2 separate regions of the Homo sapiens genome follow, and region 2 is linked to region 1. Evidence: fine-mapped expression QTL. A gene starts in region 1. The other region holds a variant in brackets. All regions are shown on one strand. Distances are from middle to middle. Region 1 holds the start of GADD45B (growth arrest and DNA damage inducible beta). Region 2 holds the start of MIR7850 (microRNA 7850).

Region 1 (2,757 bases):
GACGTTGTCATGCGGGGCCTGCCAGCCTCGCTCCTGAACAGCCTTCCCGGGGCGGCGGAGTCCTGCAGGCGGCCGTGCCTGGCGCACACGCGTGGCTCCAACACGAACTAGCCTATGGCCTCACCAAGCCTCAGTTTCCCCTTTTGCATAATGCACATAAGCATCCCCCCTGCTTCCCAGGTCTTGGATTAAATCATCCATGAATCCGGAGGGGTGGGGGGTACCAGGTCCGCACCACGCACTCAATGCAGGTCAGCGCCCACCCCGGAGTGAGAAATAAAAGTAGCCGTCATCCTTGCACGTGGGCCCTGGGTGGCGGCGTGCAGCCGGAGCCTGCACCATTCCCCTCAACAATGGCTTTCTCCAGGGCCTGGAGGCCTCCGCACGGGCAAAGGCTGGAACGCCAGGCAGCCGGCGGGGGCGGGGCCGCGCCACCTGCACCTCCCACGCGCACCCCACCCTGATACTCGCGGGGTCGGCGAGGAGGCGCCCACTTTCTTCTCCAGAGCGCCCCGGGCTTTGCAACCTCCCACTTTCGGGGCCCTCGAGGAGGCCTCCCGCGACCACCAGGTGACAGCTGATGTGTATTGGGCTCTTACTGTCAGCCGTATTTTATGCCATGCTCTGCAAACCAGCGAGGCCGGCGCTGCAGACCCATTACTCAGACGGGAACAGAGAGGCCGGGAGAAGCGAAATCACCCAGGGGCTGGGGTCGTCGCAGCCAGGAGAGACTCCGGCCCTCACCACCACCTGGGCGAGATCACGCTGCAAACGGGGCCCCTTCCCGGTGCAGCCCCTCCACCCCCAGCAGAACTTGGGAAAGGCGCGGTCCGGGACTCTCCGCGGATCGGGAGGGGATTCCAGGCCCCCCCGAAAGTCCGGGCCGCCTCGCGCGCTGGAAATCCCGCGCGCGCCCCGAACCGCGGCTCGGCTGCCGGGAAATCAGGAGAAAAAAACTTCTGCTTTTTTTTCTTTTCTGGCATTCGCGGTCACCTACCCGGCCCCCGCGCGCCCTCCTCCCGGTTCTCGCCCCCACGTGGGGCGCCCCCGCACGCCGCTCCTCCCCCTCCCCTCCGTCGGCCAACCGCAGAGCTAGCTGCACTCGCCCTTGTCTTTCCACCAATAGGAGGGGCGAATGACTCCACTGAGGCCACGCCCAATGTTCAAGTCTATAAAAGTCGGTGCCGGAGGCTCCCAGCTCAGATCGCCGAAGCGTCGGACTACCGTTGGTTTCCGCAACTTCCTGGATTATCCTCGCCAAGGACTTTGCAATATATTTTTCCGCCTTTTCTGGAAGGATTTCGCTGCTTCCCGAAGGTCTTGGACGAGCGCTCTAGCTCTGTGGGAAGGTTTTGGGCTCTCTGGCTCGGATTTTGCAATTTCTCCCTGGGGACTGCCGTGGAGCCGCATCCACTGTGGATTATAATTGCAACATGACGCTGGAAGAGCTCGTGGCGTGCGACAACGCGGCGCAGAAGTAAGTAGCCGGGGCTGCCGCCGCCTGAGGTCAGCCGGGACGGGATGGGTCGGGTTGGGCCGGGCCGGGAGCGGAACGTAGCACCCGGTGGTCCGCCCGTCACTGATCCCTCTTTCCTGGTCTCAGGATGCAGACGGTGACCGCCGCGGTGGAGGAGCTTTTGGTGGCCGCTCAGCGCCAGGATCGCCTCACAGTGGGGGTGTACGAGTCGGCCAAGTTGATGAATGTGTGAGTCAGACCCCCTTCCCGGGCTGGGCGCGGGTGGGACGGGACCTCCCCTCCGCTCTGGACGCTTTCCGCACGCTTGTCTTGCATGGAGCTGGGACTTCCCCAAGTGCCCCCCGCTGTGGATGCAGAGCTTCTCTGCCGTTTTGTGGATCGGGGGCTGCCGTATCCTGATGTATCGTCTGCAAACACCCCTCCCGCCGTGGGCCTGTCTCCCCCTACCCCATACTTTGAACCGTGTGCCCTCCCCTCCCCCCACCGTCACCAGCTTGCAGAGGCAATCCCCTGCACCCTTGCAGTTTCTCTTTTGCTCTTGCACGCTCCTTTTTTGCAAACTCCCCCTGCACGGTGGCCCCTCCCCTGTCCCCGGCTGACCCATCCCTACCCTTTGGCCCCCTCAGGGACCCAGACAGCGTGGTCCTCTGCCTCTTGGCCATTGACGAGGAGGAGGAGGATGACATCGCCCTGCAAATCCACTTCACGCTCATCCAGTCCTTCTGCTGTGACAACGACATCAACATCGTGCGGGTGTCGGGCATGCAGCGCCTGGCGCAGCTCCTGGGAGAGCCGGCCGAGACCCAGGGCACCACCGAGGCCCGAGACCTGCATTGTCTCCTGGTCACGGTGAGTCGGGCCTCTGCCCTGCCCCGCCACGCCCGGGCACCTGGGCCGGTGTTTGTCAACAAAGTCGGGCTGACTGGTCCTGCACAGCTCAGCGCTCAGCCACGTTTGGCATGTCCCGTGGGCAGCCGGGCTGGGGCCTCCTCACCCAGGAAGCTATTTTGAGCCTGACTGTTTTCCCCACACAGGGGCCCCGGGAGAGGGAGGCTCCACTAAACCCCTTCTTTTCCCTCCTACAGAACCCTCACACGGACGCCTGGAAGAGCCACGGCTTGGTGGAGGTGGCCAGCTACTGCGAAGAAAGCCGGGGCAACAACCAGTGGGTCCCCTACATCTCTCTTCAGGAACGCTGAGGCCCTTCCCAGCAGCAGAATCTGTTGAGTTGCTGCCACAAACAAAAAATACAATAAATATTTGAACCCCCTCCCCCCCAG
Region 2 (3,016 bases), 150 kb after region 1:
CATTTCCTTGCAGCTCTAGGAATGAGGTCCCTGTTTACCTACTGGCTGTTGGATGTGAGTGCTCTGAGCCCCTAGAGGCTACTCTCAGGTGTCTGCCACATGGACCCTCCACAGGCAGCTCACGACATAGCTGTTTGCTTTCTTTAAGGCAAGAAACCCCTTCCCTTTCTCTCTTTCTTTCAACTGTGGTGTGTGTGTGTGTGTGTATATATATATATAACATAAGACGGATCATCTTAACCACGTTTATGTGTACGGTTCAGTGATGTTAAGTATACTCACACTGCTGTGCAATGGCTCTCCAGAACCTTCCATCTTGTAAAACTGAGACACTGTATCCACTGAACAACAGCTCCCCTCTTCCCTCCCCCAGCCCCTAGCACCCACCATTCTCCCTTCTGTCTCTCTGAATTTGACACCTCGGGATGTGCTTCTGGTCTCTTTTATGGGCTCACCTGATGAGGTCAGGCCCACCCAGGATGTCTCCTTTTTGATGAGCTCAGGTCAACTGACTAGGAATCTTCGTCGCATCTGCAAAATCCCTTTACCGAACACACGACCTAACTGCATTAACCTAACCACTGGAGTGACACCCCATCGTATTCGCAGGTCCAGCCCATCCTCAAGTGCAGGGGATTAGATAAGATGTGGGCACCAGGCGGTGGGGGTCTTGGGCGCCATCTTGGAATTCTGCCTAGGACTGTAGCTGTAAAAGACATGGTGGCCATTGCTGCTGTAGGTGCCATTAGTAGGAAACACACACAAAGTGGCCCCCAAGGAGCACGTACTATGCATCAGGCTCTGTGCAAGGCACAGAGAAAACAGCAAAGAACTTTGGGGAAAGTTGAAGACTTGAGGTGAACAACTGGATATCTTAGTAGGTCTCTCTGAAGGTTGAGCAAATGGATAGGGGATATTGGGAGATGGGTTATGTCCCTTGGAAAGAACTCCAAATGTCCCTTTCAATAACTTTCCACTCTACCAGTCATCTCCTCCTTCCAGAAATTCTCAGGAGGCAGCGCTTGGTGGCTCTTCTGCAGATGCCAGGATGGTGACGGTGACAGCAGGCCACGCTCTTGTGTTTAGAATAGGAGGTCCCCAAGGACACAGAGTCACAGACGGGTCAGGTAAGTTGCCTGGGCGCCCACACGAATAGGAGGTGCTTCTGGATTTGAAACAAGTCTTCTAGTGCTAGGAGCCCCAGAACACACCTAGTGCCACCCCCTCCCCACGACAAAGCCCACCAGAAGGGCTGGCTGCCTAAAGAGGTAGTGGACAAGACCTCACAGACTCACAGACTAGTGGGAGAAGACAGAAGAGCGTAGCCCTGAACGCAGTGTGGGGGCACACGGTGATTGGAACCTGGCACCCACATCAACGGTCAAAGTCTAGATGGTTTTGTTTGGTTGTACTCCCGCCTCCCTCTGACCCCATGCCCACGAGTAAGAGGAGCTCCGTCCACATTTATGGACACTTAATGTTCCTGCACACCCATAAATAAGGTGAAGCCGAGTCTGCATGTGTGCGAAAGGGCACAGAGCTTTGCACATACATGGTGCCAGGGTCCATTTCCTGGTTTTGTACTATGGTTAC[G/A]TAAGATGTCACCACTGGGGGAAACTGTGAAGATACATGTGATGTTTTTTGCTCTGTGTGATTTTTGCAACTTCCTCTGAATCTGTAATGATTTCAAAATAAAGGTTGTTTTTTTTTTTTAATAAGTGGAGACACATTTAGGTGTAACTGGGACACAGCCTGCCACCTACTTTCCAAATGCCTCCTTTCTCCCAATAACCCCCACCCTCTCCCCAAAGACCTGGCAGTACTCCTGCAAGAGGAAGGGATGGACGCCAGAAAAAGGGAGTGAAGGTCCTGCTGATTCGGTCCTGGCTGAGGCCGAACGCAGGCCCCCCCTTCCCTTTGCCACCAAGAGGAGTCTAAGATCTCCCTGGAGAACATATCTTGTAGAACCCCCTCCCCTTGAGTGTGGGCAGGGCCCGTGGACATGATGAGATATCACTCCCCTGATTAGGTTGCTTTTCAGGAAAGAAGGGATTTTGAAGAGGTAAATAAGGTCCTAAATCAGTTGACCTTGAGTTCACTGAAAGGGCGATTATCCTAGGTGGGCCTGGTCTAATCAGGTGACCCTTTAAAAGGGATTGGGCCTTTCCTGAAATGAGAGCCTGGAAGCATGAGGGGCCTATGGAGAAGGCCAAGTGGCCTGAGAGTGGCCTCAAAGAGCTGAGAGTTGCCCCCTCCTGACAGCTAACAACGCAACAGAAACAGTCTATCAACCACAAAGAACTGAATTCTGAATGAGCCTGGAATGAGCTTGGAAGGGGATCCGTCACCACACAAACCTTCGGATGAGAATGCAGCCCTGGCTCACATCTCCGAGGTCAGAAGTTTGGACATAGTGTGGCTGGGTCCTCTGTGCAGGGTCTTACCCAGCCACACTACATCCAAACTTCTGACCTATGGAACCATGAGATAATAAATGGGTGTCACTCTAAGCTACTGCATTCATGGTAGTTGTTACGCAGCCATAGCTAGCTAATACACTCTTTATGTGCTGCAGACTAGAGCATTCTGGGATTTTATGGTCAGCTTTCAAACTTATTCATACACAAGGGTTTGGACATCATGTCCCTCCACAATCAGCCAAGCAACTCAGCAGTTTCCTCCTGAGTATGTCTGAGTATATCATCAAAAAGGTCTAATGACTATGACATTATCTGATTGTCTCAACAGCACTGTGTGGGGCTGAGGAGGCATAGCAGGCATGAAGACCAGAGGAAGAATGGTGCATTTAGTATTAGACAGCTTGACATGCATTAACCCCTTGAGAGGCAGGCACTGCCTATTCTCCCCCCTTTCACAGACGAGGGCATTGAGGTTCAGAAAAGCACAGAGATGGCCCAGGGTCACAGAGCCAGTAGGTGGCAGAGTTGGGAGCCCAAGCCCTAAACTGCTGGTTATGTCACCTCATGAAGCCACTTAACCTCGCTAGGTCTCAGCA

The links. PIP is the estimated chance that this variant, and not a neighbour inherited with it, causes the effect.
Region 2: its variant is the best candidate, but not a certain one, in a credible set for the expression of GADD45B in whole blood (INTERVAL, PIP 0.59).

The regions. Positions count from the first base shown.
Region 1 is chr19:2,474,926-2,477,682 of GRCh38, forward strand. GADD45B (growth arrest and DNA damage inducible beta) reads left to right here and starts at 1,202. Exons shown (of 4, transcript NM_015675.4): 1 at 1,202-1,477; 2 at 1,604-1,705; 3 at 2,104-2,326; 4 at 2,563-2,757. The coding sequence starts at 1,434. The coding sequence ends at 2,676. RefSeq lists a silencer at 353-462 and enhancers at 1,203-1,272, 1,274-1,861, 1,843-1,932, 1,862-2,451, 2,093-2,202 and 3 more.
Region 2 is chr19:2,628,321-2,631,336 of GRCh38, forward strand. All of the region lies in intron 2 of GNG7 (G protein subunit gamma 7), which reads right to left. It overlaps MIR7850 (microRNA 7850), which reads left to right and starts at 2,395; the gene lies at 2,395-2,473. The variant G/A (reference allele first, on the strand shown) is at 1,594.